4 linked regions of the Homo sapiens genome follow. The protein of the gene in region 4 interacts with the protein of the main gene of each other region in a pairwise test. Each region holds a gene or a part of one and is shown on either strand. Other genes may lie near its edges.

Evidence for each region.
Region 1: the proteins of PSMC6 (region 4) and CCDC146 interact in binary tests that used the Homo sapiens proteins (3 or more experiments, as listed by UniProt).
Region 2: the proteins of PSMC6 (region 4) and FGFR3 interact in binary tests that used the Homo sapiens proteins (3 or more experiments, as listed by UniProt).
Region 3: the proteins of PSMC6 (region 4) and PSMD9 interact in binary tests that used the Homo sapiens proteins (3 or more experiments, as listed by UniProt).

What each region holds. Positions count from the first base shown.
Region 1 is NC_000007.14:77,286,615-77,290,248, reverse strand, and holds part of CCDC146 (coiled-coil domain-containing protein 146), read right to left. Parts: intron 3,452-3,634; coding exon 3,323-3,451; intron 2,810-3,322; coding exon 2,672-2,809; intron 1-2,671. UniProt on the Homo sapiens protein: Essential for sperm flagellum biogenesis and male fertility.
Region 2 is NC_000004.12:1,799,793-1,803,426, forward strand, and holds part of FGFR3 (fibroblast growth factor receptor 3 isoform 1 precursor), read left to right. Parts: coding exon 1-20; intron 21-1,574; coding exon 1,575-1,744; intron 1,745-1,827; coding exon 1,828-1,951; intron 1,952-2,042; coding exon 2,043-2,233; intron 2,234-3,121; coding exon of another isoform or gene 3,122-3,272; intron 3,273-3,634.
Region 3 is NC_000012.12:121,902,290-121,905,923, reverse strand, and holds part of PSMD9 (26S proteasome non-ATPase regulatory subunit 9), read right to left. Parts: intron 2,919-3,634; coding exon 2,817-2,918; intron 1-2,816. UniProt on the Homo sapiens protein: Acts as a chaperone during the assembly of the 26S proteasome, specifically of the base subcomplex of the PA700/19S regulatory complex (RC).
Region 4 is NC_000014.9:52,717,075-52,720,708, reverse strand, and holds part of PSMC6 (26S proteasome regulatory subunit 10B), read right to left. Parts: intron 2,629-3,634; coding exon 2,567-2,628; intron 2,481-2,566; coding exon 2,357-2,480; intron 1,733-2,356; coding exon 1,671-1,732; intron 1-1,670. UniProt on the Homo sapiens protein: Component of the 26S proteasome, a multiprotein complex involved in the ATP-dependent degradation of ubiquitinated proteins.

The sequences.
Region 1 (3,634 bases), on a different chromosome or scaffold from region 4:
CCTCCCCCCACCCCATGACAGGCCCCGGTGTTCCCCTTCATGTGTCCATGTGTTCTCATTGTTCAGTTCCCATCTATGAGTGAGAACATGCAGTGTTTGGTTTTTTGTCCTTGTGATAGTTTGCTGAGAATGATGGTTTCCAGCTTCATCCATGTCCCTACAAAGGACATGAACTCATCCTTTTTTTGGCTGCATAGTATTCCATGGTGTATATGTACCACATTTGCTTAATCCAGTCTATCATTGATGGACATTTGGGTTGGTTCCAAGTCTTTGCTATTGTGAATAGTGTGGCAATAAACATACGTGTGCATGTGTCTTTATAGCAGCATGATTTATAATCCTTTGGGTATATACCCAGTAATGGGATGGCAACCACTACACACTCGAGTGTGTGTGTCCATCTGTGTAACTGGCCAACTTCCCTTCTCTTCCATAAATTAGAAAACAAAGTTTCATATTATCCTGGGTTGCTCCAAGTCTTAACTGAGATTTCCCACTTTCTGCTCCCATTTCTGTTGGGAAATTTGCAGGAGGCGCCATAAGCTATCTAGGAGAAGTGAGACACTTGAGGAGATGTGCAATCTTTTTGAATGTGGCTAGGTCACTTACGTGTTCGACTATGTAATACTTGCAACAACTTTGGCTATCACACCCATTACACAGATGAGCAAACTGAGTTTTAAGATCATTTATCCATCTTTCTCAAGGTCATTTTCTACTTTTGATAAATCATAGATCTGGAATCTGAATGTCTTTCTACTTTCCAGTTCTGCCTACTATGAGATTATCATTTTAAATGGAGTGGGGACAGTGAAAGCTGGGGAGGAGGAAGAAGCCAATGGAGAGCATGGAAGGTAGGGAAAGGAAAGGGGAGAATAATTGTTAGACTAGGACTCGGCTGTGCTGGAGCTTTCCTGGCTATGGGAAGCGGCCGCTATGTACATTTCTTTAGCATTACTGTTGCCTTCCAGGCGACTCTGCCATCAGCTTTGATAAGTCAGGCCTCAGTGAAAAATGACTTCCCCCAAAGAAAGGGAAATTCATTTTGCAAAAGGAAGGAAGGCAACGTTTATTTAAAGAAATATCAGACATGCTAATTCAGGCAAAGTGCATGAGCTTAACTGAGCCTTCGCATCAGTCCAGTGGCAGACGTGTGACTCACAACTTTGTACCTTAGTTTGGGAGGCCAAGTTGTGATTTGCACACCTGCCACTGGCCTGATCAGTCTAGTCATGGAAGTCATCAGAGCAGAAGCATAATAGTCAAATAAAAATGGCAAAGATAGTCTAATATTTACAATCATTTCTTGTTTAGTGTTCCACATGTGCTTCTAGAACAGAACTGATGATTACTCATCCTTGAAGTGTTTTTCTAGAGTCTGGCACATGCTAGGCATTGGAGAAATTAAGAACGAGGAACAGCTGCTGCCCTCAGGAGCCCACAGTCTCTGGTGTGGGTATTACCATTATCTGTTTTCATCTGTCTCCCCCTACTAGACCCTATGAGCTTCCTATGGTGTAAACAATGTGTCCCTTCCTCTTTGTTTCTGAACTCATGCCTAGCATGAGAGTAGCACATAGCAGGTGTTCAGTAATTACTGTTGACTGGCTGAACTCTCTGCATTGACGGGATGCTCCAGGGAACCCAGAGGCCAGGTGAGTGGCCAGTCCTCTGATGGCTCTATGGTATGCATGAAAGGCCTCGCATGAATGGTCTTGTGTAGGGGTAGACTGAGGAAGGAGTGAGTCCCGTGCCTGCACGGACATGACCCAGAAATGGGTGTACAGGCTGATGGGGCAATTCCCCAAATGAACCTTTGTTGGAAGCAGGAGTCAGAGCCACAGGAAGCCTGGCAAGACCTGCAGGCACCATGCTTCCTGCACAGCCTGCAGAACCATGAGCCAAAATAAACCTCTTTTCTTTATCAGTTACCCAGCCTCAGGTATTCCTTTACAGCAATGCAAACGAACTAATAGACAGCCTTCACCTCTTCATTGCAGGTTGTTACAGAGACCAGGGTAACTAGCATGCAACATGCTGGGAGTCCAGGGGGACTTCTAGGGGCTCTGCTGGCTGCTCCTTTCAGTGCAGCTTCTAGCAGTCCCACCCTGACCCTGAGGCTCTGGATCTGCTGTCCTGGTCTCTTACGCTTATTAAATTAGGGGGTTCTGTATTCCTGGCCTTTCCTCACTAGTGGTGCCTGGTGGGCACCTCCATGGTGCAGTTGGTCTGGGTGTTGTGTGACTGCATTTCTCTTTATCAGTCCCTTTCAATTTCTGGGTTCTGGCTGAGTTCTGGATTGGAGCAGTCCCTACTAAGATCACTGGATAAGTGAGGCGCTCCACTTAAAAGGAACTAAAAAGGATTTAACTTTGTGCATGAAATACAAAGATAATAACTGTCATATTTGGGTAGTTGCCTTGGTAAGTGAAACTTGTATAGTGTCATTTAAAAGCCTAGGTTTTGCCACCGTGAAGTGAATTAATTCAGGGAATAAGATTGAAACATTTTGGACAATTCTCTGAGTCATCCTTTCGTTTTTCTAAGTTCCCCTAGTCATAAAGCCTAATCTCTCCAGTGCTTCTCTCAATAAATCTGTCGGTCTGTGGAAAATAAAAGGTAATAAAGGAGCAGGGGCAGAAGGGAAAAGGCAGGGTCTCAGGCCTACCTTCTTGGCTAAGAGCAGTGTGTCCTGCTTGCAGCCCTGAGTTTTGCTGCAGAGCCTGTCTGTGAGCCTGGAGACCTGCTCATAGATGAAATCCTTCTCCAGCAGCTTCTCCTCCTTCTTGGCCAGTTGTAGTTCCAGCTATGTTTGAAAATTGGTTCAAGAGGAATAAAAAAAAAGTCATCTAAGACAAAATCTTATTTCCTAATTAGAGCAGTATCTCCCCCTACCCCCCACAAAATACCTCTGGAAAGTGTTTAGAGCTGGGTTAAGACTTTCCCTGCCCCAGCCCCTGCAGATACCTCTGGGAGTTCGAGTATGGCCCCCTCAGCTCTATCTAACATCCACATCACCATTCTTCTGATGTGCTCCCATCAGGAAGACAAATTAATCCATTTAAGATGCCAAAATTACTCCTTTGGGTCATGAGAGAAATGTGCCTTTGGAATCTCGAAACCACTGGATTGGAACTTCTTTTGGCAAGTGTCTAAATCAAGCTTAGAATGTATGACTAGATTACAACAAAAGGACTATATTAGTGACTAGAATAATGAAGGATAGGTCTGTCAGCATAACATGAAACAGTACCATAGGTATCTGTGAAACTACATCAACGAGGAGCTAACAGATGCAATTTTAAGCAATAATGTTTACCTTGTCTAATTTTTGGATCATTTCTTTTTCGGTCAGATCTTTCCCTGGAAGGAAGCGAGCTCTATTCTCACCATCAGGCTTTACGAACTGTTTCTCCAGGTCTTTAATTCTGTCTGTACACTGTGAAAACTATTAAGAAAAAAACATTAACTTTAAAATGAACGCTCTAGCTCAGTTAATCTGAAAATCACATTGCCTAGGGTCTTGAGAGTTTTTTAGTAGGACCAACCCAGACAAGGGTAGAAGAGAACTCTGTTTTCTTAACACCCCATCAGCTGGGACCTGGTTAAGTGACGTTTCTGCTCATTTATG
Region 2 (3,634 bases), on a different chromosome or scaffold from region 4:
GGACACAGGTGTGGACACAGGTAGGAGCAGGGTCCAGGGTTCAGGCCAGCCGGGGTGGGGCCCGCTGCCACCGCCAAGCCCTGCCCTTCACAGGCAGCTGAGGGACTAAGGCCCCGGAACAACCTCCCTGGGGTCACCCCGAAGGTCTGGTCCCCTCAGGATACAGGAGGGGCTGGGTCACTGACATGGCTCTAGATGCCCCACCCTGGTGGCAGGGCTGGGGTGCAAGGGGACACCGTGTTGCTGATGGGGAGACTGAGGCACAGGGCCCTGGGGGTTCCAGGAGCAGGAGGAGGCCAGGGCTGGCCTGTGGGGCTCTGGTGTTGGCTATAGGTGAGGTGGACCCCGCAGACATTAGCGCAGCAGGGCAGGGCACTCAGGTGGCTGCCGTGGGGTGGATGGACCCGGGGTGAGGGCGCCGGGGCACCTGCCACAACCAGTGGCGGGCAGGGTGGCTGGCAGGAGGGTGGCTGGTGGGTGGGCTGCGGCTGTGAGAGAGCAGTCGGGGACGATGCCTGGCGTCCCGGCCTGGAACGGTGGCAGGTGGACTTTGCCAAGTTGTAGGGTGGGGAGGTGGGGCTTCTGGTTTTGGAGGGAGCTCTGAGGGGAGTGCGTGCAGGTGAGGGTCATCGTGGCACAGACATGGGGGGCAGTTACGACTTGCGGACTGATGGTGTGTGCGCTGGGTCCCTGGGCCAGTGGGGTAAGCAGGTGAGGAAGGGAGGCTGAGTCCATGAGAGAAACAGCTGGGGGAACTCACCCTGGGGGTCTCCAGGAGGCCTGGGAGGGAGCTCAGCACCGTGGGGTGCCTCTTTCCAGCCTGTGTCCACACTGCTGCTTGCTGGGCCTCAGTGCCCCTGATGGGCGTGTGCCTGGAGGGGGCTGGCAGTGAGCTCACTGAGGGGAGGGCTGCTTCCCTCCTGGGGAATGCCAGCCCATCCTTGCCTGGAGTCCCGGCAGGAAGGCAGCACCAGCCCTGAGGAAGGAGAAAAACCAGTTGGGCTGTGAGAGGGGTGGTGGGAGCCCTGGACATCGAGATGGGAGGAGGCAGGGCCTCCAGGGTGCCACCGTCTCTGGGTGCCCGCCAGACTTGGAGCTCTGCAGAGGGTGGTGTAGGGTCTTGATTTCCGTGGGCCCATGCTGCCCAGCTGCCTCCAAGGCTCCTGGCTCTGCAGGCGACTGGGCTCCTCTCCTGGTAAACTGCTCCCAGGTCCTGGCTTGTCCACTAGATGGGCCTGCCCCCTGGGTCTTCAGTCTCCCCGTTGGTGGGCCTGGCCCTGGCACGCCTCTCTGGGCAGGTGGGCTCCCCTGGACAATGCCCTGTGCCCTGTGACTTCACAGGTCCGGGCAGAGCACCCTGGAGGGGAGGGGAGGGGACACACGGCCCAGCTCTGAGAAAGCCCCGGGGAGGGGACAAGATGTGGAGGCTCCTGGGAACCTCATCCCGCCCTCTTCCTACACAGGACGGGAAACTGAGGCTGGGGATGGGCAGGGGCAGCTCTGGGAAGGGGGTTGTTCAGAGGGGCCTCTGCTCCCACTCGGGTCATGGCCTTCACACGCACCTCGGCCCGCAGGGGCCCCTTACTGGACACGGCCCGAGCGGATGGACAAGAAGCTGCTGGCCGTGCCGGCCGCCAACACCGTCCGCTTCCGCTGCCCAGCCGCTGGCAACCCCACTCCCTCCATCTCCTGGCTGAAGAACGGCAGGGAGTTCCGCGGCGAGCACCGCATTGGAGGCATCAAGGTGGGCGCGGCGGGGTGGCTCTGGGCCTGGCAGGCGCGGTGGTTGCTGCCTCCGCTCACTCACCCGCCCGCGTCCCGGTGCAGCTGCGGCATCAGCAGTGGAGCCTGGTCATGGAAAGCGTGGTGCCCTCGGACCGCGGCAACTACACCTGCGTCGTGGAGAACAAGTTTGGCAGCATCCGGCAGACGTACACGCTGGACGTGCTGGGTGAGGGCCCTGGGGCGGCGCGGGGGTGGGGGCGGCAGTGGCGGTGGTGGTGAGGGAGGGGGTGGCCCCTGAGCGTCATCTGCCCCCACAGAGCGCTCCCCGCACCGGCCCATCCTGCAGGCGGGGCTGCCGGCCAACCAGACGGCGGTGCTGGGCAGCGACGTGGAGTTCCACTGCAAGGTGTACAGTGACGCACAGCCCCACATCCAGTGGCTCAAGCACGTGGAGGTGAATGGCAGCAAGGTGGGCCCGGACGGCACACCCTACGTTACCGTGCTCAAGGTGGGCCACCGTGTGCACGTGGGTGCCGCCGCTGGGGCTCCTGGGCTGGCCCCAAGGGTGCCCCTTGGCTGCGGGTTGCGTGAGGATTTGGGTCTAGGGGTTGGAGCTTCGGGGGCAGAAGCTGTGGGGGTGCTTGTGGGGCCAAGTCTCAGCCACCCCACACCTCAGGGCCATAGGCAGCTGCGTTGGGACCCGTTTCCGTGTCTGCAGAGGGCCAGCCTCAGCCACTGAAGTCCCTGACATGGAGCTGCCCACGGGCTTCTTGGGGGTGGGTGCGGCTTGGGCAGCAGTGGTGCCCCAGGACAGGAGGGCAGTGTGGCCAAGCCCTCCAGGCCCCCTCTGGGCCTCAGAGGCGGTGGCTGAGCCCCGACCTGGCCGATTGGCTCTCGTCAGCTGTGTGCAGTGGGGCCCGAGCTCACTGTCTGCCCGCCTCCTGAAGCCCTTAGCTTTGTTCCCATGGCTGCCGGGTGGGGGCCACTGAATTGGGACGGTTGCGACACTCAAAGCCCAAAGAGAAACATCTGTTCAGAGAGAAGACGGTCTCTTGGGGGCGGGGAGCAGGCGCAGGGCGAGGGTGGAGTCCAGACCCCGCCCAGAGAGGCCGCCTCGGGCCCTGTCCAGGGTGCAGGTTCTGCAAGAGCCCGGGGGAGGGCAGGCCAGTGACCAGAGGTTGTCTGAGGGTCTGGGCTGGGTTGTTGGGGTGGAGGCAGAGACGTGCATCCTGTGAAACCACAGCCACCGTGAAGTGCCTCCACGCCTCCTCCAGGCAGCCTTTGGGGCTGACGCAGCCCAGCCTCGATCTGTACCTTGGGGGTCTCCCACATCCTGCCTCGTGCCCGGCGGGGCTGCCTCGGGGGCGTGCCTGAGCCGGGTCTCTTGTCCCCGCAGTCCTGGATCAGTGAGAGTGTGGAGGCCGACGTGCGCCTCCGCCTGGCCAATGTGTCGGAGCGGGACGGGGGCGAGTACCTCTGTCGAGCCACCAATTTCATAGGCGTGGCCGAGAAGGCCTTTTGGCTGAGCGTTCACGGGCCCCGAGCAGGTAACGACTCTGTCCCATGCCGGCCGGCACAAGAGCTCCAGCTCCAAGGCCCTGGCCGCGCGCCCTGCACGCCCCGCACGCCCAGCCCTGCTCGCTCCCGCCCCGGCTCGCGCTCCACTCGGGGCCGCCTCGGCAAGGCTGGCAGCTCCAGCCTCCACGGTGACCGCCCGCTTCGAGCCCTGTGGCCTGCGCCGACCCTTCCCGCACGCCTGCGACCCCCACAGGAGGTGCCCGGTGCCCACCGGGCCGGCTCCGTGCCGTCTGTGAGCACCCCTTTGCGCCTCTCTCCACCCCTGCCCGCTGCCTGCTCGCTTCCGCAGCCTGTGTGTCCCTGTGTCCATCCTCCACCTGCACCCGCCCGG
Region 3 (3,634 bases), on a different chromosome or scaffold from region 4:
CCTGAGGCAATTTTATGGGGTGTTGGAATGCTCTTGACCTTCATCGTGGTGGCAATGACATACTACATACATTTGTGAAAACTCACGGGAATGGCAGGCCACAGTGGCTCACTCCTGTAATCCCAGAACTTTGGGAGGCTGAGGTGGGTGGATCACCTGAGGTTAGGAGTTTGAGACCAGCCTGGCCAACATGCTGAAACCCTGTCTCTACTAAAAATACAAAAAAAAATTAGCTGGGCGTGGTGGTGGGCACCTATAATCCCAGCTACTTGGGAGACTGAGGCTGGAGAATCGCTTGAACCTGGGAGGCAGAGGTTGCAGTGAGCCGAGATCGTGCCACTGCACTCCAGACTGGGCAAAAGAGCAAAACTCCATCTTAAAGAAAAAAAAAAGAAAACTCGGCTGGGTGTGGTGGCTCACACCTGTAATCCCAGCACTTTGGGAGGCCAAGGCAGGTGGATCACGAGGTCAGGAGATCGAGACCATCCTGGCTAACACAGTGAAACCCCATCTCTACTAAAAATACAAAAAAATTAGCTGGGCATGGTGGCACATGCCTGTAGTCCCAGCTACTCGGGAGGCTGAGGCAGGAGAATGGCGTGAACCTGGGAGGCAGAGCTTGCAGTAGCCCCCCCGAGACTGCACCACTGCACTCCAGCCTGGGCGACAGAGCAAGACTCCATCTAAAAAAAAAAAAAGAAAAGAAAAAGAAGAAAACTCATGGGACTGTACACTGAAAAAGGTGGATCTGGTGCAGGTAAATTACACCTTAATAAAATAAAATCAACTGGCAGCTCTGTGTGCTGGTATATGAGCAGTCTTTCTGAAGGACATGTGGCTGGAAAGTGGCTGCCTCAGGAGGAGAAGTGATGAAAATGTACAATTGTGATGGCTGCATAATTCTGTGACTACACTAAAAACCACTTTAAATGGGTGAACTGTGTAGTATGTGCATTAAATCTCAATAAAACTGTTGTAAAAATAATAAAAATAGACCAGGCGCAGTGGCTCACATCTGTAGTCCCAGCACTTTGGGAGGCCAGTTTGAGACCAGCCTGGCCAACATAGCGAAACCCCATCTCTACTAAAAATACAAAAATTAGCCAGGCATGGTGGTGGGCGCCTGTAATCCCAGCTACTCAGGAGGCTGAGGCAGGAGAATCACTTGAACCTGGGAGGCGGAGGTTGCAGTGAGCCAAGATCGCACCACTGCACTCCAGCCTGGGTGACAGAGCGAGACTCCATCTCAAATAATAATAATAATAATAATAATAATAATAATAAATTTCAGATGGACTAAAGGAAAAACAGAAATAAAACAATAAAAGAATTAAAAGAATTTCTTTTTTTGAGACAGAGTCTTGCTCTGTCGCCTAGGCTGGAGTGCAATGGCGCGATCTCGGCTCACTGCAAGCTCTGCCTCCTGGGTTCAAGCGATTCTCCTTCCTCAGTCTCCCAAGTAACTGGGACTACAAGTGTGTGCCACCACACCCGGCTAATTTTTTGTATTTTTAGTAGAGACGGGGTTTCACCGTGTTAGCCAGGATGGTCTCCAACTCCTGACTTCGTGATCCACCCACCTCGCCCTCCTAAAGTGCTGGGATTACAGGAGTGAGCCACCACGCCCAGCCAAGAATTTCTTAATTAAAAAAAAAAAAAAGAATTTCTTTAAATGGACACAAAATGCAAGAGCCATAAGCAAAAAAACTGATAAATTTCACAAAATCATCATTTTAAACGTCCATACAAGTTACAGATTTGATGACAGTATCAGTGCAGAAACGATGGCCTGACCACTAGCAGGGGCATAGGCAACTGCCAGCCATCTCCTGACCTGACCTGGCCTGGCCTGCACTGATGGGTTACAAGTAGATGAACCGTGCAGCTAAGCAGGAGTCAAAAAATCCACAACTGTTGGGTTAACTGGAGACTTCATTTGGGAACCAAAAACTTTAGTTAATAATTTTCCTGGGCTTTGCCACAGTATCACTCCTGAAAAGTGTGGATCTTTGCTACAAAACAACAACAAAAATTCCAGCCTGGACAACATAGCAAGACCCCGCCTCCACAAAATATAAAAAAATTAGCCGTGAGGTAGTTATGATAGCACCACCACACTCTAGCCTGGGTGACACAGCATGACCCTGTCTTAAAAAAAAAAAAAAAAAAAAGAAAAGATCTCTAAGAAACCTTGTTAAATGAAAACAGAGACAGGGCAGAGGAGAGGGGAATTTGGGTTAGGGTAGCCAGGAAAGGCCCCCTGCGAGCATGTCACCAGTGTAAAACAGAAGGAGGATGAAGAGGAAGAGCATTCTAAACAGAAGGAATAGCAGGTGCCAAGTCCTTGAATGGGGCTGTGCTGAGCAACACCATGAAGGCAGCAGTCCAGGGCCTCAGCAACACTTCCAGTAACTCCAGGGCTATAGACCAGAGGCCGAGTGCTATGACCTGAATGTCTGTGGCCCCCTGAAATTCATATGTTGAAATCCTAACCACCAATGTGATGGTATTAGGGGTGGGGCCTCTGCAAGGTGATTAGGTCATGAGGGGTGGCGCCCCCACTGGGATTAGTGCCCTTATACAAGAGCTCCCAGGGTTCCTCCCCTTTCTGCCATGTGAGGACACAGCAAGAAGGCACCACCTAGGAGTTAGGAAGCAAGCCCTCCCCAGACACCAAATTGGCTGGTGCCTGGATCTTGGACTTCCCTGCCTCCAGAGCTGTGAAAAATGAACTTCTGTTGTTTGTAAGCCACGCAGTCTATGGCATACTGTTAGAAAAACCCAAACAGACCGAGACACCAGGTAGCCCCACTCACCCCCTCACTGTGCTGCACCACACTGCCAATGTTATGCAGTGACTGGAAGTTCTGGGTGTTCACAGAGCCGAACTCCACAATCTCATCATCCACTTGCAGACCCTGGAGAGGGAAGGAAAAATGGAAAATCAGGCTAGAGGTTCAGTGTGCTCCTGGTGGTCTCTAACCTTCAATACCCAATTTAATGCCAAGGTCACGAGCTTGTTTTCTACAGGGTAGGCTCAGAACAAAGAGGTCAGGGATGTAGACACCTCATGCAGGAAGGGGCAGTGGGTAACGGGGCCACCTCCTCCTGGGGTTCCTTTGAGGGCAGCTCTAGTAAAGATGACCAGGTCTGCCCAATGTCTGAGAGCTGGCAGTTACCAGACACTGTGAAGGCCTTGAGGAGCATGGGAAAGGCCAAATGCTGCTCTCTGCGGTCCTAACCCAGGTTCAAGGGTAAGAGAAGGCAAGCCAGGCTGGGCCCATTTTATTCAGTGATCAACATTTAGACAAGACACTTGCCCTAGAAGCCCCCAGACAAGCAGCCACAGGCACAGGGCGCATCCAAGACTAGAGTGACGCTCTTGTTCTAGGTCCTAAGAAGACAGACCACCACTCATTCACCCCTGTAACAAGTATTTGTTGTGGGCCAACTGGCACTGGGTTAGATGCAGTAGATGGGGTAGTGAATGATAGGGAGCTTCTGTGTAACTTACAGACTTGTGACCATTAAAGAAGACTGGTAGGACCAGGGTTTAGGACCCCATTCCACCTGGCAGGAACTATGTGTCCTGACCAGGGTTTAGGACCCCATTCCACCTGGCAGGAACTATGTG
Region 4 (3,634 bases):
TCTTATATAAAGGGATATACTTTCTAGCCTCAAAGTTCTAAGCTAGATTATGTACCTTTTAATAGCTATGTATCTTTCTATAGCTACCAGGTAGTTTTAATAAATCTGAAGGCTTCCATCATGTCAAGAATTATGAAATTAAACTATGTGGATCTAATTTCCAATGTCCAAAATTTCATCAATTATTTTTTAAAGGAAAAGCTAATAATAAAATCCAATATATAAAGTGCTTATGATATGTCAGACATAACATTTATATTAGGATAAATGGATACAAAGATTTTTCTACAAATTTGATAATAAACTGATAATTTTTTTTTTTTTTTTTTTTTTTTTTTTTTGAGACAGAGTTTCACTCTGTCACCCAGGCTGGAGTACTGTGGCCTGATCATCGCTCACTGCAACCTTCACCTCCTGGGCTCGACCAGTCCTCCCACCTCAACCTCCTGAGTAGCTGGGACTGCTTTTTTTTTTTTTTTTTTTTTTGGAGACAGACTCTCGCTCTGTCACCCAGGCTGGAGTGCAATGGGGCGATCTCAGCCCACTGCAACCTCACCTCCTGGGTTCAAGCAATTCTCCTGCCTCAGCCTCCTGAGTAACTGGGATTACAGGCACACGCCACCACGCCCAGCTAATTTTTGTATCTTTACTAGAGATGGTGTTTCGCTACGTTGGTCAGGCTGGTCTCAATGCTCAGACCTCATGATCTGCCCAGCTGGGCCTCCCAAAGTGCTGGGATTACAGGCAGAAGCCACCATGCCTGGCCTATTTTTTCAAATAATTCTACTGTACACAGAAATACTAAAAGACATAAAAAATATTGTCCTCAATTTCTAAAGTTTTCTTGAATAAATGAAAAACCTTACTGCATTTAACAAACTCTCTAAAATATAGCTAGTCTGACAATGTGTTAGTTGATGATATATTAGTTACTTGAATAAAATGAGTATTTGTGTTATTTAAAAATATCTCAATTTAAGGTTTCTAAGAGATTTTATAATTTCCAAATGCTATGTTATCTTCTGAGCGGATCTGTATAATTTATGAAAAAAGATTTTTCAAATACTTCTAAGGAGAAAGAATTTGACACTGCATTACCCATGCTACCTAGTTTCTATTTGAAGTGGAAAATGTATTTGGACTCTTGATATCACTTTCACAGAATTTGGAGTGGGGAAAGGTAAAACTGGAGGAAGGCTTTATGTGCATTCTTTCATTCTGTCATCTATCCTCTTCAATTATCAAAACTATTTTAGTTGCCTCAGTCTCAGCAATAAAGTGAGAGAAAAAAATAATTTTTAGAGCAGCTTCATACATAATTATAGCTCATTTATTGCCAACAGTCTTAATATGACCATTACAAAAAATGTCTTCATAAAACTACCGCAAGATCACATTCATAAGAATTTAAATATATGAATGACTGATCTACTCAAAAAAACACAGAATAGTACAGGTGTATACCAAATGGAATTTGGCAGATAGCCTTATTTTCCAGTAGTCATTTTCTTAGAGTTTGTGATAGAGAAACATGTTTGTTCCTGACAATATTTTCAAATTTCATATTTCATTTAAAATGTTCTATATATTTTGACTATCAAATATGCAATGTTCAGTTCTTCATTTAATAAACATTGGTTTCTTTATAAACCCCCTTTACCAAATATTACCTCCATTAACGTTCTCTGAATCTCTCTGTCAGCTGAAGTACCCTCAGAAAACCGACGACCACCTAAGATAGTAGATTTGGAAATTTATATGCATTACTCTTTTCCTCTACAACCATCATTTAAGAAAACAGAACATAACAGTCTGTGGCTTAAAACATTAAGATGAAAATTAAAGAGCAAGAATTATGCTGACAAAGTTAGACTTGATTTTGGTGTAACATTTCTCATTTTGTTAAAGTGAAAGGTTATTTATTGAGACGGAGTCTCGCTCTGTCGCCAGGCTGGAGTGCAGTGGTGTGATCTCGGCTCACTGCAACCTACGTCTCCTGGGTTCAAGCGATTCTCGTGCCTCAGCCTCCTCAGTAGCTGGGATTACAGGCATGTGCCACCACATCCAGCTAATTTTTGTATTTTTAGTAGAGACAGGGTTTCACCATGTTGGCCAGATGGTCTCGATCTCCTGACCTGGTGATCTGCCCACCTTGGCCTCTCAAAGTGCTGGGATTACAGGCATGAGCCACCACACCCGGCCATGAAAGGTTATTTATTAAAATTGGTTAAACTAACATCTGATTCATTGTGGTATCTACTTCATACAAGTCACAATTACAGATTAAGAGAGGGAAAAAGGTTCTTTTACATTTAAAAAAAAGTCCTAAAACTTTCAACAAGGGTGTTATTCTTACCAATAGCATCTATTTCATCCATAAAAATGATGCATGGTTGATGATCTCTAGCATAATTAAACATTTCTCTGATCAAACGAGCACTTTCACCAATGTACTTGTCTACAATAGAACTAGATACAACCTGATTAAAGGAAAAACAGTAAGGTAAATATAAGATAATTCAAGTAAAATTAAATTTCAATAAGTACAAAATAATCTTCCCTTTACCTTTAAGAAATTGCAGTCCAGCTGGCTAGCAACGGCTCGTGCCAAGAGTGTTTTTCCCGTACCTAAGAATGACAAAAGAAGTCTTAATTAGATGGTAAGGTAGAAAAAAATTTGTTTTGAGACAGGCAATCACTCTGTCACCTAGGCTGGAGTGTGGCGAGATCACAGCTCACTGCAACCTTGACCTCCCAGACCTAAGCGATTTTCCCACCTCAGCCTCCCAAGTAGCTGGGATGACAGGCATGTGCCATCACGCACAGCTAAGTTTTTTGTTTGTCTGTTTGTTTTTCAGAGACGGGGTCTCTCTGTGTTGCGCAGGCTGGTCTTGAACTCTTGGGCTCAGGTGATCCTGCCACTTCAGCCTCCCAAAGTGCTGGGATTACAGGCAGGAGCCACCGCACCCGGCCTATGTGAAACAAATTTTTAAAATCCTTTTAAGAATATAATCGTTTGGCAAGTAAATTTTCCAAAATGAAAGCTAAATCCTAAATAGAATTTTCATTTAAAATTCCAAAGTACTTGGCCAGGTGTGGTGGCTCACACCTGTAATCCCAGCACTTTGGGAGGCTGAGGCGGGCAGATCACAGGGTCAGGAGATCGAAACACAGTGAAACCCCGTCTCTACTAAAAATACAAAAAATTAGCTGAGCGTGGTGGCACATGCCTGTAGTCCCACCTACTGGGGAGGCTGAGGCAGGAGAATCGCTTGAATCCGGGAGGTGGGGGTTGCAGTGAGCTTATAATCTCGCCACTGCACTCCAGCCTGGGTGACAGAGCAAGACTCTGTCTCAAAAAAAAAAAAAAAAAAAAAATTCCAAAGTACTTCTGCTGTCAACATTAAAATTTTAATCAAAATGTTATAATTTTTAAAATCTATTTTAAATTGACAAATAAATTGTATATTTATGGGTTAAATTATGATACATGTATATATTGAAGAATGATTAAATCAGGCAAATCAACATATCCATCACCTCACATGCTTAGCATTACTTTGTGGTTAGAACATTTAAAATCTACTTTTAGCAATTTTGAAATAGCTAATACATTATTAATTATAGTCACCAT